Linked DNA regions of Homo sapiens. The protein of the gene in region 1 purifies or fractionates together with the protein of each later gene. This does not show direct contact. Each region holds a gene or a part of one and is shown in the gene's direction. Other genes may lie near its edges.

Region 1 (16,074 bases):
ACACCCAGGAGCCCCTACAGTCAGGAACCCCGACACCCAGGGGTCCCGACAGCCAGGAACCCCGACACCCAGGGGTCCCGACAGCCAGGGGCCATTACGGCCAGGAGCCCCGACAGCCAGGGACCTCGACGGCCAGAATCCACTACATCCAGAAGCCCTTATAACCGGGAACCTCCATAGCCAGGAGCCCCTACAGCCAGGAGCCCCTTCAGCCAGGGAGCCCCGAAAGCCAGGAGCCCCGACAGCCAGGAACCATAACAGCCATGAACCCCGGGAGCCAGGAGGCCCGCAGCGGAGTGCCCAGACTTGGCAGGGTCAGAGCCCCCCAGCGGGATCCAGAGCCCGCCGCCGAGGCCCCTTTTGGGATTTCTCAGGCTCGGCAGCCTCAGCGCAGGCAGGGGCGGGGCTTTCCCTCGCGCAGCCGCTCAGCTCCCCGTGGCCCCGCCCACATCCGGCCGCCGGCACTGGATTGCTTCTGTCTGGCGGCGGCAGCATGGCGGCGGGGGCGGCTGAGGCAGCTGTAGCGGCCGTGGAGGAGGTCGGCTCAGCCGGGCAGTTTGAGGAGCTGCTGCGCCTCAAAGCCAAGTAAGCGGGGCGGCGAGCGGTAGGAGTGAGGAGCCGGAGCGGGAGCGGCCGCGAGACCGGGCCGGTGTGGGGCGGCGGGTGGCCCAGCCTGGCTTCTTGGTGCCCGGCTCCCTTCGGCCTCGGGGGACCGGGCCCGGCGCCACCCGTAGACTCCCCCGAGCCTCCGCGTGAGTGGCCCGAGCCGCAGGTTCCCCGCCCCGGAACAGCGAGCAGGGCGCGAGGCTCGCCTGGAAGCCCCGGCCCCAGCCCTGGCTCCGACCCCGACGGCTGTCCAAGCCCGGGGGACGCGACCTTCCCGGCCTCTGGCCTGGGCGGCCCCGCCGCGGGACGGAGGCGGTGGTGACTCAGCCGTGCCGCAGTGGCGGGGCGGGGGACGGGGCGGCGCCGAGACCCCGGCCCTCCGCGCCACGGAGCGGGACCCACGGCTGCGGGCTCCACCTTTCCTGTGCCCGCCGGGAGGGAGCGGCAGGCTCGGCGTCGGCCCATTGCTCTTCAGCCTCCCTTCAGGAACGCCCCTGTCGCAGGAAGAGCGGCGAGGGAAGGCCCCGTTGCATTAGCTAGGCCTGGCTGCCTTTTGAAGTCAGCCTTTAAAGTTTGTTGGACAGCAGGTAGCCTCAGTCTTCAGACTTAACCTGTTGCCGGAGACAGAGATTTCCTGTTCCATGAACTGGTGTAGTGAGAGTCTGTTCAGATTTGGCGCCGGTGTCCAGGTCTTCAATCCCTGGGAAGACTACAAAAGGAGATCCAGAGGAATGCATAGAAAGCGTTTTCTGGGTGGACTAGAAGCTCTGAACTGCAAGCATGCTTACGAGTAAATGCTTACTAGCGTGCGTGCCTGCAGGGAAAGGTCTGCACGTGGACTCTCCGTGATAATACCACCTCACATTGTAGACTACTCCAAGGACTGAGTTGTTCTCTTAGTTGTATTATTAGCGGTTGTTATGGGAACTCTTATGTCGGATTGCCTGGGATCCAGTCCCACCGCAGCCACTCAGTAGCCATGTAACCCCTGGGCACGTTTCATGCCCAAGCCTCAGTTTCCCGACGGTGACATAGATTAGCACCTGTTAGTACCTCAGGGTTGTTGTGAGGGTTAAATGAGATGACGTATGTAAAATACAAATAATACAATGCCTAGTATGCAGGAAGCACTCAGTAGATGTTGGCACTTAGTATTTCAGTAGGAAGTAGAATGGTTCATGGAATTCACAGGCAAAAAGCTTTGTTTTGTTTTGTTTTTGAGACAGGGTCTGGCTCTGTCACCCAGGCTGCAGTGTAGTGGAGCGATCACGGCTCCCTGCAGCCTCCGCCTCCCAGGCTCAAGTGATCGACCCACCTCATCCTCCCGAGTAGCTGGGACCACAGGTGCTCACCACCACGCCCGTCTAATTTTTATTTTTTTTTATAGAGACGAGGTCTCGCCATGTTGCCCAGCCTCGTCTCGACCTTCTGGACTCGAGCGATCTGCCCTCCTCAGCCTCCCAAAGGGTTGGGATTACAGGTGTGAGCTACCACGTCCGGCCAGAAATGCTTATTGATCTAAATTTTGTTTTGTTTGTTTTCGAGACAGGCTGTTGCTCTGTTGCCCAGGCTGAGTGCAGTGGCGTGATCTCGGCTCACTGCAGCCTCTACCTCCTGGGTTCAAGCGATCCTCCCACCTCAGCCTCCTGAGTATCTGGGACTACACGTGCGGTCCACCACGCTGGGCTAATTTGTGTATTTTTCGTAGAGGCAGGGTTTCCTCATGTTGCCCAGGCTGGTCTCTGGAACTCCTGAGCTCAAGTGATTCGCCTGCCTCGGCCTTGTAAAGTATCGGGATTACAGGCTTGAGCCCCCGTGACCTGCCCTGTTGATCTAAATTGAGTGAAATTTTGCCGACTGAATTTGAATTAGAGGCAAGTAGTACTCTGATTTTGCAATGGAGAGTGCAGGTGAGATGGGGTGTTGCCTTTGGAAATGGGGAGGGGTGCGAGTTACTGACTAATGGTTAGAAATGCTTTATGGGGGTGATGAAATTAAAGTGTTATTTAAACAGCTCTTTAGGCATTTCAGGTTTACCTGGGAAATTGTTACGGAAAAAAGCAGGGGTTGGGGAGGGACATGTGACATTTACTCACTGATGGAAGCTGGGCTCTGACTCATCCAGTACAGATCAGCACAATCACAGGAGTCACCAGAAGTGGCCTCTTGAAATGAGCAGGTCTTGTGTGGACCTGCCCTAAGTAAACGTTTTGAATTTACCATCACCTGAAAGGCTGTTTTGTCTGTTTTACATGTTTGTTTTAAATGCTTCATGTTTTAAAAAGTCCTTAAACTATCAAAATGAATAAAAGTGTTTTTTTTTTTTTTTTTTTTTGGGGGGGAGACAGAGTCTCTCTCTGTTGCCCAGGCTGGAGTAGAGTGCAGTGACACAATCTTGGCTCACTGCAACCTCTGCCTCACGGGTTCAAATGATTCTCCTGCCTCAGCCTTCTGAGTAGCTGGGATTACAGGTGCCCGCCACCACGCCTGGCTAATTTTTGCATTTTTAGTAGAGATGGGTTTCACCATGTTGGCCAGGCTGGTCTTGAACTCCTGACCTTAGGTGATGGGCCCGCTTCCCAGCGTGCTGGGATTACAGGCATGAGCCACTGCGCCCGGCCAAAATGGATAAAAGTTTAAATGTAAGTACCATTTGGATGTTGTATCCTTGCCGCTGGCCTGTACTTGAAATGGCCCAGGAAACAATGTGCACTTTCCTTAGTGACTAGTTCAAACGGACACGTGATAAATGATGTGTGGCATCTGGGGAAGGAGCACATTTCTGCAGCTTTTTTGGTGAAGATGGAGACATTTAAGAATATTAGGCCGGGCGCGGTGGCTCACGCCTGTAATCCCAGCACTTTGGGAGGCCGAGGTGGGTGGATCACGAGGTCAGGAGATCGAGACCATCCTGGCTAACACGGTGAAACCCCGTCTTTACTAAAGAAAATACAAAAAATTAGCCAGGCATGGTGGCAGGTGCCTGTAGTCCCAGTTACTCGGGAAGCTGAGGCAGGCGAATGGCATGAACCTGGGAGGCGGAGCTTGCAGTGAGCCAAGATCGTGGCACTGCACTCCAGCCTGGACGACAGACGAAGACTCCATCTCAAAAAAAAAAAAACCAAAAAAAGAATATCATGGTGGCTTACACCAGCAAACCCAGCACTTTGGGAGGATGGCTTGAGGCCAGGAGTTTGAGAGTAGCTTGAACAACATAGAACCCATCTCTACAAAAAATAAAAAAAGTAGCCAGGCATGGTGATGCATGCCTGTAGTCCCCAGCTACTCAGGAGGCTGAGGTGGGAGGATTGTTTGAGCCCAGGAGTTCCAAGCTGCGGTGAGCTATGATCCTGCCACTGTACTCCAGCCTGGGTGACAGAGTGAGACCCTGTCTCAAAAAACAAAAAGTGCCCGAATTTTAGTACTTGTGTTGATGTAATAATTTTAAATCTACTTTCCAAATCATCGCTTCTCCAATTTTAAAATTTGACATGAATTGAAATTTTTTTCTTTTAAGTAGTTGAATCAGATATTTACATAAGTTGCTGAAATCTCAGCTGGTTTGTACAATGGGGTTATTAATATCCATTTGCAGAGTAAGCAGGTTTAGTATATGATATGTTTAATAAGCAGTAGCTGGTATCTGCAGATGAATGTAGTAGCAGAATACTATAATAATTGAAAAACAACTATTTGCTGATGAAGAGCTGAAGTTTATTACATTGTCTAAAGTTACATTAGTCAGGATTTGAATGTGGTTTTTGTCTGATGGTTTTTCTCCAACAATGCTCCAGGCATATGGGGCTATCCATTAAGATGGAAAGAATACTGTAACATGTAATCCAAAAGGGGATAACGTTTATATTTGTTTCAGATATAGTATGTCCTTATAATATTGGACATTATGTGCTTAATTGAGAAATGGAAGGTAAGCATTAAATAGGAGAATATTGTGGATAATTTCAACTAACAATATCATGTTTTAATGTTTTCAAATGTTTTATATTTTTGTTTCATCTTCTCAACATCCCAGAGTGTTGGTTATTGCTGTTTTACAGATGTGGAAGTTAAATTACTCTTCAAAACCATGTTAGTAATAATGAAACTGAAATGAATTCAGTTTCTATGGCATACTTTCTTCTTTTCTTTTTTACTTATTTGGGCTCATACTATTATAAAGTTTGGTAACCTACTTTAATTTTTGAAAAATGTAGTTATATTAGTATTTTCCTGTGGCGTTGAAAGTTCTTTGAAAATTTGATTTGTAATGGCTTTATGTTTTCTTATGACCATTTAAAAACTATTATTGAGCATCAGAAATTTTTCTGATTTGCTACGTAAAGTAGTGGGAAAATATCCATGTACAGAAAATCTTTGTCTCTTAATTACTTCCTTAGGATTGATACTTATGTGTAAGAAATTTCTGAAAGGTCCCAATTTAATTTTTACCAGCAGGACATGAAAGTACTTCTCGTCATCCTTTTTATCATTGAATATTATGATTTAAACAGTCCTTTTGTTGGCTGGGCACGGTGGCTCATGACTGTAATCCCAGCACTTTGAGAGGCGAATGCAGGCAGATTGATTGCTTGAGCCCAGGAGTTTGAGACCAGCCTGGTCATTGGCCAAAGCCCAACTTTACAAAGAACAAAATATGCCTGTAGTCTGGGAGGCTGAGGTGGGAGGATCACCTGAGCCCAGGAAGTCGAGGCTGCACTTGCCTTGCACTCCAGACTGGGCATTAGAGTAAGACCCTGTCTCAAAAAAAGAAAAAAAAAATTTTTTTTTTGGTCAATTTGGTGGAAAATGGTATCCCAGCTTTAAAAAGAAATTGAAGTATTACATACAGTAACAATGCACAGATCTTAATCGTCAGATGTGGTGAATTTTCACAATTGTATACACACCGATAACCACCATTCACAGGAAGAATATAGAACCCAGGAAGTTTTCCATCCCCTTTAGCCCAGCTACTGATTTCTTACTGTCACTGTAGATGAGTTTTCCCTGCTCTTGGACTTTGTGTGAGTAGAATCATACAGTTCTTTGTCTGTGTTATCTTTTGCTCACATATTTTCAAGCTTCATTTGTGTCATTGCTCATGTCTGTGGTTGGTTCCTTTTTACTGGTAAGTTACATTCTGTTGTATGAATGTCTATCACTTTCTCCTGTTGGCGGACATTTGGCTAATTTCCAGTTTTGATTTATTATGTATAGGGCTGCTGTGAGCATTCTTGCATGAGGCCTCTGTGAACCTCTGTTTTGTTCTTGCCATCCTTAGGCAATGGACAAAAAAGCTTCCCTGGATCCTCTTCATTGCTGGAGGCTATGGTGGGCAGAGGCTCCTGAGGGAGGGTTTTGAGGGGTCAGGCCTGTGTTCTAGTTTTAGGGCCAGAATTCAGTTCCAGGGCCCCAGACAACTGCAAGGAAGACTGAAAAATGTAATCTAGCTGAATGCACAGGAGGAAGATGAAACAGTGCTTGATTGAAACAGCACAGTCTCTGCCGTGGACCTGAGGCCCCACCTACTCAACCATTGAAGCTGCTGAGTTGTGCTGGATGCAAATTAACATCCGGTGACTAGGGGCTCCTACAATGTGTCCTTCCCTGCCTTAGGTGGGTCTTCATTTGGAGCTTCCTGCTTTCCTTGTGTGCCTGTGGACACTCTCCCTTCATCAGTCCTACCAGTGGTCTTGCCCTCTGTTTTCCTATGCTTTGATAAATGACCTTGCTTCCCACCTGAGAGAAAACAGGATTTCAGGTAGCATCTCCCCAAGCCCTCCTTCCACTCTCACCTCTCCCAACACTTACCATTTATTTGTAGCCTTACCCATTCTTAATTCCTTGGCTCCTGACTCAGAGGAGACTGCCTTCTTCTTCTTCAAGGTAAGCTCTTCTCTGCTCTGGATTTCCCCTCTCCTGCCTCTTCTGAGTCCTTGCATCCTCAGCTGTCTTGTGTCTACGGCCCTTCCCTCTCCATTTGCACTATCCCCTAGTAAAATAAACATATAAGGATTTTCTTGTATTAAAAAGGCCCATCCCTTGATTTTGTCTTTTTCTCTGCCTGTACAGATCTCTTAGAGTACATCTCTGCTTCCTCATCTTCACTTCAGTCCTCAGTGGACTGCAGTCTGACCTGTGCTTCTGCTATTCCATTGAAGGTACTCTCTCTGTTAGTTGCCCTTTCCTGTTGCATTGGATGATTGTCACTCCCTCTTGACACTCTTCTCTTGACTTCTATGTGACCCTTCAATCTTCCAGTACCGCCTAGGACCCCTTAATCTTCCAGTACCGCCTAGGACCCCTTCTCTGCTTTACTACATAAGTTCCTTCTCCTCCATCTGTCCTAACTTAATGTTGATAAGCCCCCTGAGGCGCTGACCTCGGGTCTCCTCTGTGTCCCTCTGTAACCCTTTGCGGTGTGGTGCTGGCACTGTTCCTTTCTTGATTCCCAAATCTGTATATCAGGTGCAGACTTCTTCCCTGAGCTCTAGACATCATACTAACAACCCATTAAACTTCCTTTCCTCAGGTTGGCAGCTTCTGCACTATGATTTGAGGCATAGTGCCACCACTAGCCATCAGTCTCTAAGCCAGAACTTGGAGCCAGCTGTAGACTGCCTTATCTGTCACCAAATCCTGCCCCTTCTACCTTCGAAATCCTCATGCTGCTCTTTGCTTCTGCTTTCCTGACACTTTATTGTAGGCTTATTCTCTTCTCGCTGGTATTATTTGATCAGTTTTTACAGTTTGTTATTCCTTTCCTTACCCATAGGTTAGTTGTCCTTGGTTCTTTTTGCCATGGAACATATTTCTGTTCGTGATTTTTCAGATTTTTTTGGGAGGTGGTATTATATTTGAACAGAATTCCATAAAACTGAAGGATTTTTTAGTTGGATATGACCATAGATATCTTTGCCAAGATAATTTTGTGTGAAAACTAACTAAAATAGATACTGAGTTATTAATATATTCTGTGTGTTCATACTATAAATGTTTAGAATTTTTTTTTTTTAAATGGGTCTTGCTCTGTTGCCCACACTGGAGTGTAGTGGTATGATCATGGCTCACTACAGCCTCGACCCCCTGGGCTCAAGTAATCCTTCCACCTTAGTCTGCCAGAATGCTGAGTACAGGCATGAGCCACCTTGCCTGGCCTAGAAAAATCTTTTTTTTTTTTTTGAGGCAGAGTCTTGCTCTGCCATCCAGGCTGCAGTGCAGTGGTGTGATCTCAGCTCACTGTAACCTCTGCCTTCTGGGTTCAAACAATTCTTCTGCCTCAGCCTCCTGAGTAGCTGGGATTACAGGCATGCACCAACACACCCGGCTAATTTTTTGTGCTTTTAGTAGAGTTGGGGTTTCACCACATTAGCCAGGCTGGTCTCGAACTGCCGACCTCAAGTGATCTGCCTGCCTCGGCCTCCCAAAGTGCTGGGATTACAGGTGTGAGCCACTGCTCTGGGTCTAGAAAAATCTTTTGTAGCATAATATTAAAAAGTATAAAAAAAAGTCTTTGTGAAAAGCAGTTCTATTCTTTTCCTCGTTTTGCACTGGCATGCCTTCATTTTCAACACTTACTGCTGTTTCTATGGTCACGGTTATGTCTCTCCATCACTATACCACATTTAAAAAGTAAATAATGATATTATTAGTAATGTGTCTACAACCATTTTTCACAAACATTGTGCCATTAATACAGAAATTCAGTTTCCACTTTGCCCAGGGGTCTGAAAATATGGTTGATTTGCCTGGCTTTTTTTTTTTTTTTTTCGTTTACTTTAAGTTCTGGGATACATATGCAGAATGTGCAGGTTTCTTACATAGGTATGCATGTGCCATGGTGGTTTGCTGCACCTATCAACCCATCATCTAGGTTTTAAGCCCTGCATGCATTAGGTATTTGTCCTAATGCTTTCTCTCCCCTTGCCCCCCACCCCCTGACAGGCCCTGGTATGTGATGTTCCCCTCCCTGTGTCCGTGTGGTTTCATTGTTCACCTCCCACTTATGAATGAGAACATGCAATGTTTGTTTTTCTGTTCCTGTGTTAGTTTACTGAGAATGGTGGCTTCCAGCTTCATCCATGTCCCTGCAAAGGACATGAACTCATTCCTTTTTATGACTGCATAGTATTCCATGGTATATATGTGCCACATTTCCTTTATCCAGTCTGTCATTGACAGGCATTTGGGTTGGTTCCAAGTCTTTGATATTGTAAATAGTGCTGCAATAACATAATGTGTGCATGTGTCTTTATAGTAGAATGATTTATAATCTTTTGGGTATATACCCAGTAATGGGATTGCTGGGTCAAATGGTATTTCTGGTTCTAGATCCTTGAGGAATTGCCACACTGTCTTCCACAATGGTTGAACTAATTTACACTCCCACCAACAGTGATTTACATGACTTTTAATTGAGGTGGATGAATATTCAGATCTACTTCAAATGGGCTTCACTTGAAATATCATTGAATTGAAAATTTATCTGAAAGAGTCTCAAGACCTTGCAGAGTGCTTTTATGTTCCAGTGTTGTATACAACAAAATTCTAGCAATATGAAAAACTTCAGACGGTTCTTTTAAAGCTTTCTTTTTTTTCTTTTTGGTAATTTATATCAGTATTTGTGTATTTCCAAAATTGGTATAATTTTAAATAAATGCATTTAATTGATTTACAGGTCCCTCCTTGTGGTCCATTTCTGGGCACCATGGGCTCCACAGTGTGCACAGATGAACGAAGTTATGGCAGAGTTAGCTAAAGAACTCCCTCAAGTTTCATTTGTGAAGGTATTTATATTTCAATGTCATGTCTTTTGTGAATTTAATTCTGATTTATGGGTTAGATTAGGGCTGGGTGCGGTAGCTCACACCTGTAATCCCAGCACTTTGGGAGGCTGAGGCGGGCAGATCACCTGAGTTCAGTAGTTTGAGACCAGCCCAGCCAACATAGTGAAACCCTGTCTCTACTAAAATACAAAAATTAGCTGGGCGTGGTGGCGGGTGCCTATAATCCCAGCTATGTGGGAGGCTGAGGCAGGAGAATCTTTTGAACCCGGGAGGCAGAGATTGCAGTGAGCCGAGATTGTGCCACTGCACTCCAGCCTGGGTGACAGAGCGAGACGCTGTCTCTAAATAAATAAATAAATAAAATAAAAAATTAGATTTTATTAACTAATATAAAGATGGAGTGGTATGGAATTCCAAATATGTATAATTGGTGTGGGATCTGTTATTTTTGCACATCATTCTTAAAAATCTTAAAATAATTTTGCATTTTTTTTTTTTTTGAGACAGAGTCTTGTTCTGTCGCCCAGGCTGGAGTGCAGCTCCAGCTCACTGCAACCTCTGCCTCCCCGGTTTAAGCGATTTTCCTGCCTAAGCCTCCCGAGTAGCTGGGACTACAGGCACATGCCACCACACCCAGCTAATTTTTTGTATTTTTAGTAGAGATGGGGTTTCACCATCTTAGCCAGGATAGTCTTGGTCTCTTGACCTCGTGATCTGCTCACCTTGGCCTCCCAAAGTACTGTGATTAGGCGTGAGCCACCACGCCTGGCCAAATGTACACTTTTCCTTGATCATCCTCGGGTGTGAGGCATGACTACCAAATGTCAAGGTGGCTGTGGGCTGGAGTTTTGGAGAGCACAGGCAGACAAATTAGTTCCCTGTGGGTAACTGTGGTTTTAAGGCATTTAAAATAGTAACACAAATTATGTCATTGAAAAGCTAGGTGTGCTGTAGAAAATAATTCAGGAAGGGGTATGTAAATGCTGCTAGGGACCAGGGAACAGGAAGTTGCTATCTTGGTTTAGATGAAGGCAGACCTCCGGGAGAAGGTGAAAGTCTTTCTAACCTGTTCAGAATGTAGAGGAAGATGGAAGCCAGTCAGTCTCTTCCTTGCCTCTTTTGTTTTTCACTCTGGTTATGTGTACTCCTACATTCCTGCTGTCTCTCTTGAGTGGATGAGTGCTAGGAAAGCTGTAGTTTTGACTGTGGATTAACTCAATTGGTTTAGCACGTTAAAGATATTATTCAGGACTTAGTACTGGTTTAGGCAGCAGGGCCAAAATATGTGTTGAGAGTCTTAGAAATGAATTATCAGGAGGGGAGGTGCACCTTGTATTCCCAAGCCTGAATCCTTAAGATTTAAAAAACAAATGAAAAACCAAAGTCTTATTTTTTAAAACAAGAATCTGTGAGTTCAGAGTACATGTTACCCAATATACTCATATATGGGATTAAAAATAACATCAACTGTATTGGTCTGTATGCCTCTTTCTATGTAAACTGAAAACACAGAATTTTGACAGGGTAATTCATTCGTATAGTAGGTGATAAAATTTTCAGGAGGCTTCTGTATAAATAAGTTTGCTTTGAATAGGCATTATACTCAGTTGGCTCAAAATTCCAAACAGTGTAGAAAGATGTCCGTTGAGAAGGCCCACCCCGTTCCTCTGTTGTCACCCTTGTGTCCCACCACATAAGTAACTGCTTGTATTAATTTTGTATGAATCCTTCTAGTGTTTCTTTATGCAAATAGGGCAGATGTGAATATAGTGATTAGCTTTTTAAAATTTAAGGACTTATTTAAAATTCCAATGAAATGTATAATGTAACTGTAGAGTGTAACCCTAAAATGTCCAATATAAATAATAGAAGGGGGCATTAAAACTGCATGTTTGGTCAGTGATAAAAGATAATGATTACAAGTGAAATGAATGATTAAACATTTCAATCATAAGATTAATCAAGATGATGGTAATTGTTCTAAGTCTGCTTTTATGTGTATCATGTTACTGGTTTAGGTAACACATTGTTCTTAGCTGCTATCTGAATGATTTATTTAAAGTGACTATAGAATTACTTCTCACATTGGTACCAGACTTGGCAGTGAGATTTTAAGTTGTTCAAGTGCTTAAGTATCTCTGTGAGCCAAAGGTTGGAGGAGCCCTCAGCGATTTTGGGTTGTGGGGGATACCTGAGCCTGACTGCACCTGCCACTCATGAGGATGATGACAGCGTAAGATTGGTCATTCTTCCAGGAGTCATCACTTTCCAGAAATTCACTCTATAACATAGTTTTTCTTTGATTAGCCATCATTAAGGGCAAAGGTACTTTCCATGGCATTTGTAAGGCAGCTAATTAAAAGGCACTTGCCGGACAATAGTAAGCAAAAGAGAAGTAGAATGAGAGATCATCGTTCTTTCCCAGTAAGAGAGGCGTGCAGGCTGGGCGCCTCGGCTCACACCTGTAATCCCAACACCTCTTGAGGCTGAGGTGGGAGGATTGCTTGAGGCCAGGAATTCAAAACCAGCCTGATGCACATAGCAAAACCATCTCTACAAAAGAAAAACTAAAAAAGTTAGCTGTGCATGTTGGTGTGCACCTGTAGTCCCAGTTACTTGGGAGGATAAAGCAGAGGATTCCTTGAGCCCAGGAGGTCTCAAGGCGGTCACACCACTGGACGTAGAGTGATACCATGTCTCAAAAAAAAGGAGGAATGTAGTTCATTTTAAAACAGCTTTCTTTTTGTTAATGAGAGTTTTTGGAAAGTTCTAGAGTATGAACTAATGTTCTTCTGCTTCATCTTGTGTCTATTTGATTTCTTAGTCTTTTTTTTGGAGACAAGGTCTCACTCTTATTGCCCAGGCTGTAGTGCAGTGATCTTGGCTCACTGCAGCCTCTACCTCCCAGGCTCAAGCAATTTCTCCACCTTAGCCTCCCGAATAGCTGGGACTATAGGTGTACACCCCTGCCCAGCTAATTTTTGTATTTTTTGTAGCGATACGGTTTCACCATGTTGCTCAGGCTGGTCTTGAACTCATGGGCTCAAGCAGTCTGCCTACCTTGGCCTCCCAAAGTGCTCAGATTATAGATGTGAGCCACTTTGCCCTTCAGTCTTTTTTTTTTTTTTTTTTTTTTTTTTTAATGATGAAATGGTTTGGCATTTTTGGCTTGTGAAGTAAAGGGATCAGTTCATTTTTGTGACTGGGATTTATAAAATCATTAAATAAGTGATCATACACTAGATATTTTTAAACAGATTGTAAACTTTTGTGACTATCAACAATTTCTTATTTTGTAGGAGCTGGTAAAAATAGAGTTAGAAGAGTTAGTCACCCATTTTTGGTCAGAGTAGTTAGTTTGTGCTCTTTGGAATTGAATGCTGAAAGACAAGGTTTTCATATTTATTGCATCTGAATCCCTCATTCTCTGTATTGATGATATGGTCGTAAAGTGTATTTGGGGTGGGGCACAGTGGCTCACACCTGTAATCCCAGCACTTTGGGAGGTGTGAGTGGGAGGATTGTTCAAGGACAGGAGTTCGAGACCAGCCTGGGCAACATAGGGAGACTTCATCTCTACAGAATAAAAATTTAAAAAACTAGCTGTGTACACCTGTTGCCCCAGCTACTTGGGAGGCTGTGGTGGGAGGATTGCTTAAGTCCAGGAGTTAGAGGCTGCAGTGAGCTATGATTGTGCCACTATACTCCAGCTTGGGTGACAGAGTGAGACCTTGTCTCTTAAAAAAAAATTAAAAAGTGCATCTGTACTCCTTTTGGGTGCTGTGTTTATAATGGGTGGTGTTCCATTTACCTGAGTCACTGCCATGTCTAGTGGGCTCTTCTGGGCTCCGTCCTGAGTTTGTCACACCTCCTAGGGCCCAGAGGAGATGATGTGGTATTTCTATCACTAAAAGGAGTTCAAGACCAGCTTGAGTAACATGGTGAAACCCTGTCTCCACTAAAAATACAGAATTTAGCCAGGCATGATGGCGCATGCCTGTAATCCCAGCTACTCGGGAGGCCGAGGCAGGAGAATCATTTCAACCCAGGAGGTGGAGGTTGCAGTGACCCGAGATCGCGCTACTGCACTCCGGCCTGCGTGACAGAGCAAGACTCCGTCTCAAAAAAAAAAAACAAAACAGGAAAAGTCTTAGAGAAACCTTGTGTTTATTCAGAATAAAATGAAATAGTTAAAATGTTTTAGTGCCTTTTATTTTCAAATTACATAGTCAGTATCTTCTCTCATACTGATTCTTGTTTGTATCTTTACCCAAAATAGGAGTACACCTTTGTCATTTAATTAATTGTTTGATATAATCTTCCAAAATATGGTATCTGGCAGAGGGGGGTGGGAGAGAGGAAGAATAGCACAAGGCTTTGTTGGGTGCCTGCTGCTGGTTGTATTTGAGATCCAAATCAACTATTTTGTATGAAATCGTAGCTATTTTTTCCTGTAGCTTTTTTTTTTTTGGTCTCTGTGCCATTGGTTGCTTGGATCAGGAAATGCCCTATATTTTTGTCTATATTGTCATTTAATTCCTTTTTTCATTGCCTCCTTGACTAGATGGTGAGATACTTGACATGGGGACCTTTACCTCATCAGGTTTTCATTAGTAAAAAAAAAAAAAAAAAAATAGGGCCGGGCATGGTGGCTCACGCTTGTAATCCCAGCACTTTGGGAGGCCGAGGCGGGTGGATCACGAGGTCAGGAGATTGAGACCATCCTGGCTAACACGGTGAAACCCCATCTCTACTAAAAATACAAAAAAAATCAGCCAGCTGTGGTGGGACATGCCTCTATTCCCAGCTAGTCGGGAGGCTGAGGCAGGAGAATTGCTTGAACCCAGGAGGCGGAGGTTGCAGTGAGTTGAGACCACACCACTGCATTCCAGCCTGGATAACAGAGCAAGACTCCATCTCAAAAAAAAAAAAAAAAGAAAGAAAGAAAAAGAAAAAAATGACTTTCCTTTGTTCGAATGGCTCTTGCTTTCCATGCAAGCCTCCCTGATCCCACTTCCAGCTTACTGCTCCCATCCTGCTAGGCCATAGTATACTCATTTTACCATATCATGTACTTCAGTGCAAACATTCTCAAAGTCAGACTTACCAGCTAGCTGGTTGGTGAGATTTTATACTATTGTATTTCATTTGACATTAATTTTGTTTATATAGTAGCTGCTGTACTTGCATTTTATTTTCATTGTAATTTAAAATATACGATCAAGGGTATGGAGGAGTTACGTATTTAAATGTATTTTTGCTTCTTGAAAAACAAGAATCTTTATTCTTATTTTGAAAGTGCGACTATCTTAAAGATACAGATTGCACTGTTGAATTTCTAAAGATCTGTACAATCATTATAAATGTAAATGTAGTTTATGTTTAATTTCTGAGTGTATAATTACTGTATGTAAACAGATAGTGTTGGGCAATCTTCCGAAGGGTACCAACTAGCTGTATAACCAGGTGCATGCTAACTAGTGGAATTAAAATTTTTCAGTGGCAGAGAATGTTGGCCAATTTATTTGGCATCTTAAGAGAGCATATGTTGGATTTCATTCTACAGGAAGGAACTCTAAAAATGCGTCTCAGATAATTCTGGTAGAATTGTTTTTTTTTTTTTTTTGAGACAGAGTCTCACTGTGTCGCCCAGGCTGGAGTGCAATGGCGTGAACTCAGCTCACTGCAACCTCTGCCTCCTGGGTTCAAGGAATTCTCCTGCCTCAGCCTCCTGAGTAGCTGGGATTACAGGTGTGTGCCACCACTCCTGGCTAATTTTTGTATTTTTAGTAGAGACGGGGTTTCACCGTGTTGGCCAGGCTGGTTTCGAACTCATGACCTCGTGATCCGCCTGCCTCGGCCTCCCAAAGTGCTGGGATTACAGGCATGAGCCATCGTGCCCGGCTCTGGTAGAATTGTTAAATCTTAAAAAGACTGTAGGTTTTTATCTGTGCTATCTTGGTAATTAAAAAAACCCAAAATTAACATGGTTTTATTAGCTGTTTCTGGGCTAAGTTTGGTGAAAGTATTTAAAGAAGTTATCAAAACTTTTTTTTAAAATTATTATTATACTTTAAATTCTAGGGTACATGTGCACAATGTGCAGGTTCGTTACATAGGTATACATGTGCCATGTTGGTTTGCTGTACCCATCAACTCATCATTTACATTAGGTATTTCTCCTAACGCTATCCCTCCCTCAGCCCCCCACCCTCCAACAGGCCCCGGTGTGTGATGTTCCCCTCCCTGTGTCCATGTGTTCTCATTGTTCAGCTCCCACTTATGAGTGAGAACATGTGGTGTTTGGTTTTCTGTCCTTGTGATTGTTTGCTGAAAATGCTGGTTTCCAGCTTCATCCATGTCCCTGTAAAGGACATGAACTCATCCTTTTTTTATGGCTGCATTATATTCCGTGATGTATATGTGCCACATTTTCTTTATCCAGTCTATTATTGTTGGTTTAAAGTCTGTTTTATCAGAGACCAGGATTGCAACCCCTGCTTTTTTTGCTTTCCATTTGCTTGGTAGATCTTCCTCCATCCCTTTATTTTGAGCCTATGTTTGTCTTTGCACATGAGATGGGTCTCCTGAATACAGCACACCGATGGGTCTTGACTCTGTCCAATTTGCCAGGCTGTGTCTTTTAGTCTTTTAATTGGGGCATTTAGCCCACTTACATTTA
Region 2 (16,168 bases), on another chromosome or scaffold:
TTTGGGAGACCTTATATTCTACTCTTTTCTCCACTCCTCCCCACTTTTCCCTGAAAATGATTTCTTCATGGCTTTTTTTCCTGATTATAGAAATAATTACCACCTTTGTCTTAAAACACACATGAACACATAATAGCTGTTAATATATTTGATTAGACTACAATTTTCTACATTTAGTCATGACTTTCTGGTGGTGTATTCTAGGCCTTTGATTAGATTTTTGCAAGGCCTGTTTGATTTGGGGGATACTTAGGCCTCAAGACTCTTGGACTAGCAAATCTCATTCATAATGGGCTGATTTAGTTCAGAGGGGAAGAAGATACTATTATCCTTAAATCTGGGACCTCTTCACCAAGGTGCTCCTGGGCACTTGTACCTCCTCCCTTTGCTACCCTCAGTCTCTGGTGACAGGAGTCCCACACAGCCTGGCAGGAAAAGTCTGTTACACACCTGTGATGCAAGGAAGTGCTTTTCCTGGTCTCACATATCCAAGCCCAGCCCTACTCCATTGCTCCCCCAGGTCTCCTGGTCCTTCTACCTGCTCCCATCTAGGTCTTTCCAAGTATTGAACCCCAGACTCGACAAAGTCAGCTAACGCTGGGGACACTAATGCAGAGGAGAGCTAGGTCTGCCCCCCATATCCCTGAGCCACAGCTGTCTATCCACACCATTACAATCCCACAAGTGCTGCATTGGACAGGAAAGGATTCTGGGGATGGAGCTTCTAAAAGGGAGGGTTTTGTTTTGTTTTGTTTTTTCTTTTGAGACGGAGTCTCACTCTGTCACCCAGGCTGGAGTGCAGTGCCACAATCTCAGCTCACTGCAAACTCCACCTCCCGGGTTCAAGCGATTCTCCTGCCTCAGCTTCCTGAGTGGCTGAGATTATAGGCGCCTGCCACCACGCCCAGCCAATTTTTGTATTTTTAGTAGAGACGGAGTTTCACCATGTTGGTCAGGCTGGTCTCAAACTCCTGATCTCATGATCCAGTTTTTTTGTGTGTGTGTTTTGTTTTTTTGTTTGTTTGTTTTTGAGACGGAGTTTCGCTCTTGTTGCCCAGGCTCAAGTGCAATGGCATAATCTCAGCTCACTGCAACCTCCGCCTCCTGGGTTCAAGTGATTCTCCTGCCCCAGCCTCCCAAGTAGCTGAGATTACAGGTGCGTGCCACCAAGCCTGGCTAATTTTTGTATTTTTAGTAGAGATGGGGTTTCACCATGTTGGTCAGGCTGGTCTCAAACTCCTGACCTCATGTTCCTTTTTTTTTTTTTTTTTTTGAGATGGAGTTTCCCTCTTGTTGCCCAGGCTGGAGTGCAATGGCGTGATCTCAGCTCACTGCAACCTCCACCTCAAGGGAGGGCCTTTGTTTCAACACACAGATGTCTCAGGGAGCTGTTTTCCTGCTGGCCATGGCTCTTCTCCAATTCTCCCGGGATAAGCTTGTGTGTATTCAGGTGGAATGTTTTCTCAGTCCCTGCCTTACCCACACTCTTGACCTAAAGCTACCTTTTGTTCCTCCCCTAGAGCTGCCTAGCTCTCTCTCCTCTGCCTCGCCCAGCTGCAGGTGGATCCTCCACTAAAATGAGGCTGCCTCGTCACTCCCATTGGATGGCTGATGTCTCAGAAAGTTACAGGGGATGGGGGTCAGGGGTGCGGTGTGGCTGAAGGAACTGGAAAGTGAGGCCTAGTCTGTTAGTAACGGGAGCAACATCTATACCTCTGCCCCAGCCCATGACCTGCATGGACTCAATCAGCGGGAGACTGGGGATGAAACATTCGGGGAACCAGGAGGACTAGGGGAGCATAAAGCAGCAAAAGGGGAGAAAAGATGTGTTTGGGAGCCGGAGCTGCCCAATGACATGCTGGCTTTCCCACTTAGGAGCCGTGCACCCCTACACTAGCTCCTCAACCTCTCTGAATCTCAGTTTCCTCACCTGTGAAGTAGGGATTTTAGTTATTATGAAGAGTAAATGGACCCAACAGCCAAATGTCATGCTTGAACCCTGATGGGAACCTGGTTGGAAAAAAAATTAGAAAAATTTAAATTTGGTCTCCAAAATATCACCTGGCTCGGCGTTATTGTTCATTTCTTTGGTGTGAGAATGGCGTTGTACTTATGGAAAACACGTGTATTCTTCGCAGATGCACGCTGAAATATTGAAGGGTGAGGCTTCACGAGGTCGGCAGCTCACACTCAGATGGTTCCATAACAACAGAGAGAATGTTTGCACAGAGGTGGAGAGAAGGACAAGAACGATGTGTGAAATGCTAACTGTTGAATCAAGGTGGAGGGCGTTCACGTGATCACCATTTATTCTTTCCATTTTTCTTAATGTTTAAAAATGTGTCAACCAAAGATTGAGGGGGGGAAGAGAGACCAGGTGTGTGAAGCACTCTGCACAATGCCCCATTCAGCATAATTTATTTAATAAATATTCACTAAGCTCCTGGCGGAGATGTCAGTCAAGAACCAGGGATGGCGTGTCAGATACTGATCTGGGGATGCAGTGAGGATTTCTAGGGGGCCAGAGACAAGCATTAAAGGGTGAACAACCATGTGCACGTGCTGACCACAGACTGTGGAGAATGCTAGGAAGACAGCTGACAGGTGAGAGACCAAGGTGGGGGCTTAGGCGGTGTGAGGGGATGTCACACTGGCTTGGGTACCCTCTGAGCCTCTGAGCAGGTGGAATGTGAGCTGGGGATGGGCTGTGCCAGGGAGCTGGCTGTGCGGAAACCCCTCTCCTTCCTCATCTGTGTCTCCAGGGCCCCTAGAGGGGCCCAAGATGCCACGGGGATGACATCAGCCAAGAACCAGGAGTGGGAATGTTTGCCTCCTCTCTGGGGAATTAAGCTGCAATTTAATTTATGCTTGTAGAACTCAGTCTGTTCGGACAGACCAGATACCATCAGCCACCCTTGACCAGTGAACCTCATGGTGTGGGGCAGGAAAAATGATGAGGATTCCTGCAGGGCCACCTCCTGGAACCAGCCAGTGATTTGGAACTGGCATTAGAGGAAATGTTAGTGGTATTTCATCCAGGCCCTGACAGTGTCCAAGACACTTCTCAGTAGCACAACTAACAAATGAAAAGATGTTCAGCTTCATTCATAGTTAAAGAAATGCAAGCTGGAATTCAATATTTTTGCCCATCAGATTGGTAAGGACTAAGAAGATTGATGATACGGAGCGATGGGGCGGCCACGGGAACAGCCCTCGCATCCTTTGTTTGTTGAGCCTCTTGTGGGTAATTTAGCAGTACCCATCACATTCAAAATTCTGACCACCCTTTGGCTCAGCAATTTCATTTTAATGATTCTATTCTGAAGATATTTCAGAGATGTGATTTTTAAAAACAATATATACAAGTATGCTCACTGAATTATATCTATATCATGTTCAGCATTACAGTAATTATGTCACCCAAATGGAAACAACTCAAACGTCCATCAGGAGACTTCTTAAATAAATTACATATAGGAAAACATTTAATATGAGTGAAGTTTTGGAAATAAAGATATTTATATATATAATAACAGTACAGGTTAGTGTATACATTTGTTTAAAAATCTTGAAGACTGCATACCAAAATGTTAATAACAGAAATCTCTGGAGCATAGAAAACAGGGGACCTTTCTTTTCTACAGTATGCACTTCTGTAATATCTATATTTTGTATTGCAGACATACATTGCTGTTGCAAGCAGAAAACAGGATTTTAAAGTGAGGGAAAGGGAGAAAAGGATGAAAGGAAGGATCACGGTAGATATTTGTTCTTTTTTGCCAGCCAACATCTGAACCCCCTTGAAACATTTGGGTAATTCACCTATCTTAGGATGTCTCAATTTAGAAGTTGTAAATGGCCTTCTGGTGCCAGGCTGCTGTGCTGTGTCACAGGAGGTATAGAGAGACTCCATCGAAGCCTGGCCCTCACCCCAAGACAGACGTGGAGCCCAGTGAGACTTGGGTTTTCGGCCACTTGCAATCAGTTCCTCCTTCCTTCCTTCCTTTTATCTACCTTCCCTTCCCTCCCCCTTCCCTTCCCCCTCCCCTTCACCTTCACCTTCACCTTCACCTTCACCTTACCCTTACCCTTACCCTCCCCTCCCCCTTCCCCTTCACCTCACCCTTCCCTTCCCCTTCCCCTTTGTCTTCCCCTTTCCTTCCCTCCTCTCCCCTTTACTCTCTTTCTCTCCTTCCTTTCTTTTTGTGAGACAGGATCTCACTCTGTTGCCCAGGCTGGAGTGCAGTGGCACAATCACAGCTCACTGCAGCCTCAAACTCCCAGGCTCAAACAATCCTCCCGCCTCAGCCTCTCTAGTAGCTGAGACCACAGGTGCATGCCACTGCACCCAGCTAACTTTTTGCTTTTTTAGTAAAGACAAAGTCTCCCTATGCTGCCCAGATTCAAACTCCTGGGCTCAAGTGATCCTCCTGCCTTGGCCTCCCAACGTGCTGGGATTACAGGTGTGAGTCACCATGCCTGACCCAGAGTCTTAAATGATAAGGCAAAAAGTGGAGGAGGTATGAGAAGGATACTCAGGGTCTCGTGAAATCCACAGAATTGAACAAACAAGCTTTAGGAAGGGCTGAGATCGGACAAACTCTGGGGCCCAGAGCAGGAGTTTCTGGGCTTTCTCTCTAGGGAGCTGCCCTACTAGGAGCTCTGACAACACTCGGCTCTGGGTCTCTCATATCTAGTGTCAAATTCCTGCAAAGAAGAACCTAAGCTCAGGAGAAAGATCTGGGCTTGAAGGTCACTGACGTATGGTGGGTGAGAAGCTCTGCAGCAATTTTCAAAGGAACAGCCAGGAAGGCAGAAGGAGAGCTGGTAGAGGTGGTGTCAGGAAGCCCACAGGCCACAGATGAGTGGGTTTTTGAGAGGAGGAAGAAATGATCATAATGTCAAAACCTGAGAGATAAAACGAGCACTGAAGAGCATCTGCAGGCCGGGCACAGTAACTCACACCTGTAAGCCCAGCACTTTGGGAGGCCGAGGCGAGAAGATGGCTTAAGGCCAGGAGTTCAAGACTAGCCTGGGCAACATAGCGAGACTCCTCCATCCTTATAATATATATAAAATATAACATATATATATATATATATCTTTTTTTTCCAAAAATGGAAAAAAAGCATTTGCTGGGTTTGGTGACTTGTACCCTTGCCAAGGAAAATTTTGGCAGACAGATGGGGGCAATTACCTTGTTAAAAAAGGTTGGTCATGGCCCGGTGTGGTGGCTCACGCCTGTAATCCCAGCACTTTGGGAGGTTGAAGCGGGCAGATCACCTGAGGTCAGGAGTTCAAGACCCTGTCTCTACTAAAAATACAAAAATTAAGCGGTTGTGATGGTGCACACCTATAATCCCAGCTACTTGGGAGGCTGAGGCACGAGAATTGCTTGAACCCAGGAGGCCATGGTTGTAGTGAGCCGAGATCACGCCACTGCACTCCAGCCTAGGTGACAGAACAAGACTCTCTTTCAAAAAAAAAAAAAAAGTTTGGCCACGACAAGGAAGAATAGAGAGGGTGTTAGCAGGAGGAGGGTACTGGGCCCAAAGAGGCATTTAAAACTTGAACATGTTGAGTGATGCCCTTGACTGATGAGGAATGAGCAGAAGCCTCGTAGTGGTGGAGAAGGACCCTTTGGTGAAGCTTTCCCAGGTGATTTTCTGCTAAAGTTTTGGCTTTCTCAAAACACTCTCATAGTAAGCAGATGTTATTGCTCTTTTGCCCTCTAGAAAGCCAACAAGCAAAATGCCTTGAGCATCCCAAAAAACTGTTGCTGTGACTTCTGCTCTTGACCTGTCCACTTTTGCTGTGACTGGGCCACTTCCACCTCTTGGGAGCCATTGCTTTGTGCTTTGTCTTCAGGATCCTACTGGTAAAGCCACGTTCCATCTTCTGTTACAACTCTTCAGAGAAATGCTTCAGGATCTTGATCCTACTCGTTTTAAATTTCCATTGAAAGTTCTGCTCTTGGCTGCAGCTGATCTGGACGCAATGGTTTTCCATAGAGTGGAAACTTTGCTCAACTTTAATTTTTCAGTCAGAAAAGTGTAAGCTGAACCAATTGAGACGTCTTTGGTGTTGGCTGTTGTTTGTGCTGTTAATCGTTGGTCCTCTTCATGAGGGCACAAATAAGATTAATTATTTTACTCAAAAATTGATGTGGATGGTCTGCCACTGAGGGCTTTATCCTCAACATTGTCTCATCCCTTCTCTTTTTTTTTTTTTTTGAGATGGAGTCTCCTTCTGTCACCCAGGCTGGAGTACAGTGGCACAATCTCGGCTCACTGCAAACTCTGCCTCCCGAGTTCAAGCAATTCTCCTGCCTCAGCCTCCCGAGTAGCTAGGATTACAGGCACCCACTACCACGCCCGGCTAATTTTTTGTATTTTCAGGCACCCGAGTAGCTGAGACTACAGGCGCATGCCACCATGCCAGCTAATTTTTTGTATTTTAGTAGAGACGGGGTTTCACTGTGTTGCCCAGGCTGGTCTTGAACTCTTGAGCTCAGTCAATCCGCCCACCTCGGCCTCCCAAAGTGCTGGGATTACAGGCGTGAGCTGCCGCGCCCAGCTTAATTTTTGCTTTTTTAGTAGAGACAGGATTTCAGCATGTTGGCCAGGCTGGTCTCGAACTCCTTACCTCAAGTGATCCACCTGCCTCGGCCTCCCAAAGTGCTGGGATTACAGGCTGAGCCACCACGCCTGGCCTCATCCCTTCTTAAAACGAGTTTTCCATTTGCAAACTGCTGGTTTCTTGGGGGCATTGTCCCCATGAGCTTTTCATAAAAATATCAATGATGTCACCATAAATGTGATGATTATTCTTGCTTCAAATTTAGCAGAATCCTTGTTGCTCTGACAGGAGCTCTTTTCAAACTGATGTCTTATCCTTCTTAGTGCCTCAAACTAGATCTTGTCGAGACATGTGATAACAAGTTAGTACAAATTTATTTTGGTGCCAAAAAATTTTCAAATCCATGCATAGTTTTTTTCATAGTATGAATTTTCCATGAACCTTTTGAAGACCGCTTGTATAGAAAAAAACAGTATATATAGGGTTTGGTGCTATCCAAAGTTTCAGGCATTCACTGGGAGGTCTTGGAACTATCCCAGTGGATAAGGGAGGACTACTATGCTAAAAACTATCCCTTGTTTAACTGAAATTCAAATTAAACTGAGTGGCCTGCATTTTATCTGCCAACCCTACCCTGGGGGCACTTAAAAATACCAGAGGCCAGGCGGGGCGCGGTGGCTCACGCCTGTAACCCCAGCACTTTGGGAGGCCGAGGCGGGCAGATCACGAGGTCAGGAGATCGAGACCATCCTGGCCAACATGGTGAAACCCCGTCTCTACTAAAAATACAAAAATTAGCCGGGCGTGGTGGGGTGGGTGCCTGTAGTCCCAGCTACTCACGAGGCTGAGGCAGGAGAATCGCTTGAACCTGGGAGGCGGAGATTGCAGTGAGCCGAGATCGGGCCACTGCACTCCAGCCTGGCGACAGAGCAAGACTCCGTCTCAAAAAAAAAAAAAAAAAGAAGAATTGCTTATCCACGCCCTGTTTCTTTTCTCTTAGCGTTACTCAGTGGGGGAGTCCTCCCAAGTATGATGGAGAGTCCTTTCGAAACCCTGCTGGATTGTCAGGACAACCAACTGGGCTACTTTTCCACAGGTCGCCCCAATTCCTTTGGATTCTGATTTCTCTGAGGTCCCAGGATCCAGACAGGCTTGGCCAATCCTTCCCCGCCCAAACTGTAACTCTCAAAACCAACACCCCGGCATAGGGCTGGAGGGGAAAATGGGTGAGGTCAGAGACAAAGAAGAGGGAAGGGTCAGGCGGGGCTCCGGGTTCCCTGCCACAAGCCTCCGCTGGTGTTCTGCTTTTCTCCCGAGAGCTCCCGCCCACCCTGCAACCCTCGCCTGGCCCCGCTGCCGTTCTCAGCTCCCTCCCAGTGCCTGGTGGAGGCCGGGGCTGTGTCCCGAAGGGGGTCGGGGCAGCAGAACCTCAGCCACAGCCAATCACAGCGGGGTCCTTCGGGGAGGGGCGTGGCCTGACAACTTCGGCGACGCGGCTGGACCAATCCGGACGGAGGAGAGCGAAGCTCCTCTGCACTGGGCCCAGGTGCGCTCCTCAGCGTCTCCGGGTGGCGGGGCGCGCGGGATGGAGGAGTCTTGGGAGGCTGCGCCCGGAGGCCAAGCCGGGGCAGAGCTCCCAATGGAGCCCGTGGGAAGCCTGGTCCCCACGCTGGAGCAGCCGCAGGTGCCCGCGAAGGTGCGACAACCTGAAGGTCCCGAAAGCAGCCCAAGTCCGGCCGGGGCCGTGGAGAAGGCGGCGGGCGCAGGCCTGGAGCCCTCGAGCAAGAAAAAGCCGCCTTCGCCTCGCCCCGGGTCCCCGCGCGTGCCGCCGCTCAGCCTGGGCTACGGGGTCTGCCCCGAGCCGCCGTCACCGGGCCCTGCCTTGGTCAAGCTGCCCCGGAATGGCGAGGCGCCCGGGGCTGAGCCTGCGCCCAGCGCCTGGGCGCCCATGGAGCTGCAGGTAGATGTGCGCGTGAAGCCCGTGGGCGCGGCCGGTGGCAGCAGCACGCCATCGCCCAGGCCCTCCACGCGCTTCCTCAAGGTGCCGGTGCCCGAGTCCCCTGCCTTCTCCCGCCACGCGGACCCGGCGCACCAGCTCCTGCTGCGCGCACCATCCCAGGGCGGCACGTGGGGCCGCCGCTCGCCGCTGGCTGCAGCCCGGACGGAGAGCGGCTGCGACGCAGAGGGCCGGGCCAGCCCCGCGGAAGGAAGCGCCGGCTCCCCGGGCTCCCCCACGTGCTGCCGCTGCAAGGAGCTGGGGCTGGAGAAGGAGGATGCGGCGCTGTTGCCCCGCGCGGGGTTGGACGGCGACGAGAAGCTGCCCCGGGCCGTAACGCTTACGGGTGAGTGCTCACCTGCGCCGGCAGCCGACGCCGCCAGGTCGGGTGGACGTAGCCGAAACCCCCACACCCGCCCAGCCCTGGACCGCTGGGCAGCTGACCGACTAAGGGACCCAGTTGGCCATCCCGATCCCCAACCCGATCTGGCCTCTCGGGCTTACAATCAATAACATTCCTGTCTACGTAACTGTAATTCACATTGTTGCCGTGTCTCACGCCTGTAATCCCAGCACTTTGGGAAGCCGAGGCGGGCGGATCACCTGAGGTCAGGAGTTCGAGACCAGCCTGACCAATATGATGAAACCCCGTCTCTACTAAAAATACAAAAATTAGCCTGGCATGGTGGCATTCACCTGTAATCCCAGCTACTCAGGAGGCTGAGACAGGAGAGTCGCTTGAACCCGAGAAGCGGAGGTTGCAGTGGGCCGAGATCATGCCATTGTACTCCAGCCTGGGCAACAAGAGAGAAACTCCGTCTCAAAAAAAAAAGAGTAAAGCCACTCCCCTTCTCATCCTCCCCTACCCGCACTCCCGAACTTTCAAATTCCCTCTTAGCATGCGCAGCACCTTTGAGAAGTAGCAGTGGAAGGAACTCCAGATGAGGGGAAGTCATTCAGGATCAGGTGGCAGGGGTGGCAGCCCAGATCCCCCCATCCCTGCACTGCCAAGGACTTTCTGGAAGGTCCAGGCTGCTGCTTTCTTTCCACCACACTGAGGAACATTTAGCCCCAAACACTCATCCATTCAGTAGATAGTGAGTGGGACCACAGGGTAGATGTGCCAGTAGTATGTGCGGCTGGTTATTTTGTGGTGTGGGGGAGGGGGAGCTTGACACAGAAGAAAGAGCCCACAAAAGATACAGACTGTCCTGGATAAGGAGACTGGAGGGAGTAGTTGGTGAATTTGGGGCAAGAGATAGCCAATTTTTTTCTTTTTTTCTTTTTTCTTTCTTTTTTTTTTAAGAAATAAGTTTTGCGCTTGTCACCCAGGCTGGAGTGCAATGGCACAATCTCGGCTCACTGCAACCTTCGCCTCCTGGATTCAAGCGATTCTCCTGCCTCAGCCTCCTCCCGAGTAGCTGGGATTACAGGCGCCGGCCACCATGCCTGGCTAGTTTTTGTATTTTTGGTAGACAGGGGGTTTCATCATGTTGGCCAGGCTGGTCTGGAACTCCTGACCTCAGGTGATCCAGCCGCCTCAGCCTCCCAAAGTGCTGGGATTACAGGTGTGAACCACCGGGCCAGCCAGAAAGCCACATCTTGAAAGGTGAGTAGGAGTAGGGGGTGCTAGGGATCCCTGCTAGGTAGAGAGACTGGAAGGAGCAACGGCCAGGAGGGGTCAGAGCCCCGCCCAGCAGGCAAACTGGCAAAAGCTTGGCTGATTGAGAAGCAGGCCAAGCCCACTGACAGGCACCAAATTCCCAGGGCCTCTAGTTGAGAGGTTCTTAGACAGGGCTAGGGTTCAGGGGCTTGGATCACTCAGGAACTTTTGCAGAGTTTGATGTGAGCACATTTTCTGTGTGATGGAATATTAGTTTTCTATTGCTGTTGTAACAAATTACCACAAACTTAGTGTCTTTAAGTGACACAAATGTATTATCTTACAGTTCCGTTAAGTCAGAAGTCTATAATGCCGGCTCACTGGTCTAAAATCGAGTTTTCAGTGGGGCTGCATTCCTTTCTGGGGGTCTAGGGGAGACTCCCTTTTCTTGCCTTTGCTAGCTTCTGGGCTTTTCTTAGGTCAAGCCCTTCTCTATATTAAAATCCAGCGTTGTTGGTAGAGTCCTCCTGCTGCCACTTCTGATGCTCACCACCTGTCTTCCTCTTCCACATATAAGGCTCCTGAAGCTGGGCACGGTGGCTCACGCCTGTAATCCCAGCACTTTGGGAGGCCAAGGCGGGCGGATCACTTAGGGTCAGGAGTTCAAGACCAGCCTGACCAACATCGTCAAACCCCATCTCTACTAAAGATATGAAAATTAGCCAGGCATGGTGGCAGTCACCTGTAATCCCAGCTACTTGGGAGGCTAAGGCATGAGAATTGCTTGAACCCAGGAGGTGGAGGTTGCAGTGAGCTGAGATCATGCCACTGCACTCCAGCCTGGGCGATAGAAAGACTCAGTCTCAAAAAAAAAAAAAAAAAAGGGCCAGACGCGTTGGCTCACACCTGTAATCCCAGCACTTTGGGAGGCCGAGGTGGGCAGATCACAAGGTCAGGAGTTCAAGACCAACCTGGCCAACATGGTGAAACCCCGTCTCTACTAAAAATACAAAAAATTAGCCGGGCATGGTGGCACGCACCTGTAACCCCAGCTACTCAGGAGGTTGAGGCAGGAGAATTGCTTGAACCCGGGAGGCAGAGGTTGCAGTGAGCCGAGATCGCACCACTGCACTCCAACCTGGGCGACAAAGCAAGACTCTGTCTCCAAAAAAAAAAAAAAAAAAAAAAAGAATATCTGGCTTCTTTCTCCAGAATATAAAGTTGGAACTTAAACGTTGTGGTTTATGTTGGCATCCCAGGCTGAGGGGGTGGGTGCTGGGGTGAGGTGGGTGAGATGCTGGTGTGCTGTGTCTGTGGTTCTGAGTTGGGTTGGTTGGGATGGTCTCCACTAATCTGATTATCCTGTTTGCCCCCGTCCCAGGGCTACCCATGTACGTGAAGTCCCTGTACTGGGCCCTGGCGTTCATGGCTGTGCTCCTGGCAGTCTCTGGGGTTGTCATTGTGGTCCTGGCCTCAAGAGCAGGTATGGTGTCCCTGCAGTCCCCATCCCCTCTCCCTGCCGCTCCACTACTGGGGCTGTGTTTCCAGCCCTTAAAACACCTTAGAATTAGAAAGAGACACTGGGAGATGCAACACGAAGACATGGTGCTTGATGAGCAAAGTTAAGGAAAATGGGTGCCTTCCTCCCACTGGATACAGCTTGTGCCCTGATAAGCAATCAGATGCCAGCTGCCACCCCGGGGACTTTGTGCACTGCACAGACTATAAAAGCTCCCTGGGGCCCTGCCCACCTTGAGGTTTGCCAGTTCCATGCCCCTTCATTTGAGGCAGCAGCCAGGCTTTGTTTATTTAATGCAGCTTACCCTGCAGCTCACCAGCAGTCTCTGTGCTTGCAGGAGCCAGATGCCAGCAGTGCCCCCCAGGCTGGGTGTTGTCCGAGGAGCACTGTTACTACTTCTCTGCAGAAGCGCAGGCCTGGGAAGCCAGCCAGGCTTTCTGCTCAGCCTACCACGCTACCCTCCCCCTGCTAAGCCACACCCAGGTGAGAAGGGGGTGTCCAATCTAAGGGGGTACAGATCTTTCTAGACCACAGAATCCTAGCACTGGAAAGAAGCTTAATGATTGAGTCCAGCTCTTCATTATAGAAATCACCAAGGTGTAGAGGAGTAGCATGACCATAACTTCGTGCAGCCTCTAACTCCTGTGCTCAGGCAATCCTCCTGCCTCAGCCTTTTGGGTAGCTACAGGCATGTGCCACCATGCCCAGCTTTAAAAAAAATTTTTTTTTGGCCAGGCACAGTGGCTCACACCTGTAATCCCAGCACTCTGGGAGGCCAAGGCAGGCGGATCACAAGGTCAGGAGTTCTAGACCAGTCTGACCAACACAGTGAAACCCTGTCTCTACCAAAAATACAAAAATTAGCCGGACATGGTGGCGGGCGCCTGTAATCCCAGCTATTTAGGAGGCTGAGGCAGGAGAATTGCTTGAACCTGGGAGGCAGAGGTTGCAGTGAGCCGAGATCACTCCACTGCACTCCAGCCTGGGCAACAGAGCAAGGCTCCGTCTCAAAATAAATAAATAAATAAAAATAAAAATAATTTTTTTTTAAGGGACAGGGTCTCACGATGTTGGCCAGGCTGGTTCAAACTTCTGGCCTCAAGTGATCCTCCTTCCTTAGCCTCCCAAAGTGCTGGAATTACAGGCCATGAGCCACTGCGCACAGCCAAGCACTTATGTTTTTAATCGTTGGTCTCTGGGTCATCTTTTGATAGGCTGGGCTTGGCTGGACAGCTCAGCTTTATAATGCAGATTGCCAGGGCTTGGTTTGAGGCTGCAGGTTGGGTCTGTGTAGAATATTCCATCCCCATGGGAGAGGGAGAGGAGTGGATGTTTGCTGAATAGTAATCCAGTCAGTGGGTTTGAGAGCATCTACAAAAAGGGACCAATAGATAGGATCCAGTCCTTGGCATAATTTTGTTTTCCTTTTTTATTTATTTATGTGTTGTGTCTCACTCTGTTGCCCAGGCTGGAGTGCAGTGGCATAATCTCGGCTCACTGCAACCTTCACCTCCCGGGTTGAAGGGATTCTCTTGCCTCAGCCTCCCAAGTAGCTGGGATTACAGGCATGTGCCAGCACACCTGGCTAATTTTTGTATTTTTAGTAGAGATGGGGTTTCTCCATGTTGGTCAGGCTGGTCTCAAAATCCCCACCTCAGGTAATCCGCCCGCCTCGGCCTCCCAAAGTGCTGGGATTACAGGTGTGAGCCACTGCGTCCAGTGTTGTCCTTTTTTTTTTTTTTTTTGAAACAGGTCCTCACTCTGTTGCCCAGGCTGAGTACAGTAGTGCAGTCATGGCTTACTGCAGCCTTGAACTCCCAGGCTCAAGCAATCCTCCCACCTCAGCCTCCTGAATAGCAAGGACTACAGTCATGTGCCACCACAACTGGCTAATTTATTTTTTGTAGAGACACAAGTCTTGCTATGTTGCCCAGGCTGGTCTTAAACTCCTGGACTCAAGCGATCCTCCCACTTCGGCCTCTCAAAGTGCTGGGATTACAGGTGTGAGCCACTGTGCCTGGCTTTTTTTTTTCCCCATTTAAAAAAATTGTGGGCCGGGCACAGTGGCTCACGCCTGTAATCCCAGCACTTTGGGAGGCCGAGGCGGGTGGATCACAAGGTCAGGAGATCGAGACCATCTTGGCTAACACGGTGAAACCCCGTCTCTACTAAAAATACAAAACATTAGCCGGGCGCGGTGGCGGGCGCCTGTAGTCCCAGCTACTCCAGAGGCTGAGGCAGGAGAATGGCATGAACCTGGGAGGCGGAGCTTGCAGTGAGCCGAGATTGTGCCACTGCAATCCGGCCTGGGCTAAAGAGCGGGACTCCGTCTCAAAAAAAAAAAAATTGTGTTAAAATACACATAACATAAAATTTACCATCCTAGCCATTTTAAGTGTACAGCTGAGTGATATTAAATACATTCATAATGTTGAGCACCTATCACCACCATCCATCTCCTGAACTCTTTTCGTCTTGTACAACTGAAACTCTAACCCCTCTAAACACTGATTCCCCATTTCCCCCGCCCCCAATCCCTGGCAGCCACCAAGCTGCCTTTTCTCTCTCTCTCTTTGGTTTGAACTATTCTAAGAACCTCATACAAGTGGAATCGCACAGTATTTGTCTTGTTGTGACTGGCTTATTTCACTTAGTATCATGTCCTCAAGGCTCACCCGTGTCGTAGCCTGTATGAGAATTCCCTTCCTTTTTAAGGCTGAATAATACTCCATTGTGTGTATGCACCACATTTTGCTTATTTGTTCACCGGTCAGTGGACAGACCCTTGGGTTGCTTCCATGTTTGGGTTGTTGTGAATAATGCAGCTATGAATTTGGGTGGACAAATATCTCTTCGAGACCCTGTTTTCAGTTCTTAGAGTATATACCCAGAAGTGAGAATTGCTGGATCATATGGTAATCCTATTTTTAATTTTTTGAGGAATTGCCATACTGTTTTCCATAGGGGCTGTGCAATTTTACATTCCCAGCAATCCTTGGCTTAATTTTACCTGGGGGCAGGTGCCAGGAATTTATATTCGCTGTTCTGGTATGTATGAAAACGCAGCACTCCTTCCGTCAGTGCTTTAATGAGTGTGTATTAAGCACTTACTCCGTGTTTGGCAAGGGGGATTCAATAATGAGCCAGAATAGCACAGCCCCCACCTTGACAAAGCTAAGACAGCAGTGAGTGAGGCAGACGTCAATCAGGAAATCACAGAAATAGATGTTTAATGACCACACTGATCTGTGCTGTGAAGGGACGGTGCACAGTGCTACGAGAGTAAATGACAGGAGGGTGTGACCTGAAGGTCAAGGTGAGCAAGGCAGCATGTGCCTTTCCAAAAACATTCAAGAAAAGATAGTGAGGCCGGGTGCAGTGGATCACACCTGTAATCCCAGCACTTTGGGAGCCTGAGGAGGCAGGAGGATCACCTGCAGTCGGGAGTTCAAGACCAGCCTGGCCAACCTGGTGAAACCCCGTCTCTACTAAAAATACAAAAATTAGCCAGGCATGGTGGCATGCACCTGTAGTCCCCACTACTTGGGAGGCTGAGGCATGGGAATCGCTTGAACCCAGAAGACAGGATGCAGTGAGCCAAGATCGCGCCACTGCTCTCCAGCCTGGGTAACAGAGTGAGACTCTGTCTCAAGGAAAAAAAAAAAAGATAGTGACACCGGGCCAGAGAGCCTTCTGGAATCCTCTCTTCTCTGTTCCAGTCTGGACCTGTTGCTCACCAGGCCTGCTGCACAGCTGTTCTGGAATTTCTATTTACCTGCATCCTCAGTATGCCTTTTGCCTCCCTCCTCCGTGGGATTCCCTGTTTCCTAGGTCGCATGTCTTTTCGTTGGTTTCACCTCAGTCTCCTCAGTGGAGTCAGAGTTTTGCCACCTTGCCCAGGCTTGTCTCAAACTCCTGGACTCAGGCGATCCGCCTGCCTCAGCCTCCCTAAGTGCTGGGATTACAGACATGAGCCACCGTGCCTGGCCTCAATTTCTTGAGACCTTTCGTGCTTAAAGAACTTTTATTCTAACCTCCAAGCTAACAATCACTTGGCTGGTGTGTAGGAAAAACACTCAAACTGTCTTTCCTCTGCTCTTACACAACAACAATCAACCCAGAAAGCGTCTGTGACCAAATGTGTTTTTTTTTTTTCTCTTACCCACGAAGCAGTGGGCACCAGCTGGGTGTCCTGTAATTTAATTCAATTCTGATGCTGTTTTCCCGGAGATAGCTTCAGATCCCACAGTTTGAGGGTTCAGTCCCTAAGGCTGCCCAGCTTCAGACGCCCGTCGCAAGTCCAGGCCTCTGGAACTTCTGAGTGGCTGGCTTCAAGTTTGGACTCCCACGTTCCCTCTTTGGGTTTGATTAATTTGCTAGAGCAGCTCACAAAACTTAGGGAAACACATTTACTGGTTTGTTACAAAGGGTATTTTAAATGATACAAACACACAGCCAAAGGAGATGCACA

Evidence for each region.
Region 2: the proteins of GLRX3 (region 1) and KLRG2 purify together in Homo sapiens (affinity purification with mass spectrometry; 4 studies listed by BioGRID and IntAct, with this or other methods). This does not show direct contact.

The regions. Positions count from the first base shown.
Region 1 is NC_000010.11:130,135,928-130,152,001, forward strand, and holds the start of GLRX3 (glutaredoxin-3), read left to right. Parts: upstream 1-463; 5' UTR 464-493; coding exon 494-585; intron 586-9,283; coding exon 9,284-9,392; intron 9,393-16,074. UniProt on the Homo sapiens protein: Together with BOLA2, acts as a cytosolic iron-sulfur (Fe-S) cluster assembly factor that facilitates [2Fe-2S] cluster insertion into a subset of cytosolic proteins.
Region 2 is NC_000007.14:139,475,639-139,491,806, reverse strand, and holds the start of KLRG2 (killer cell lectin-like receptor subfamily G member 2), read left to right. Parts: upstream 1-8,133; 5' UTR 8,134-8,164; coding exon 8,165-8,921; intron 8,922-11,559; coding exon 11,560-11,661; intron 11,662-12,034; coding exon 12,035-12,180; intron 12,181-16,168.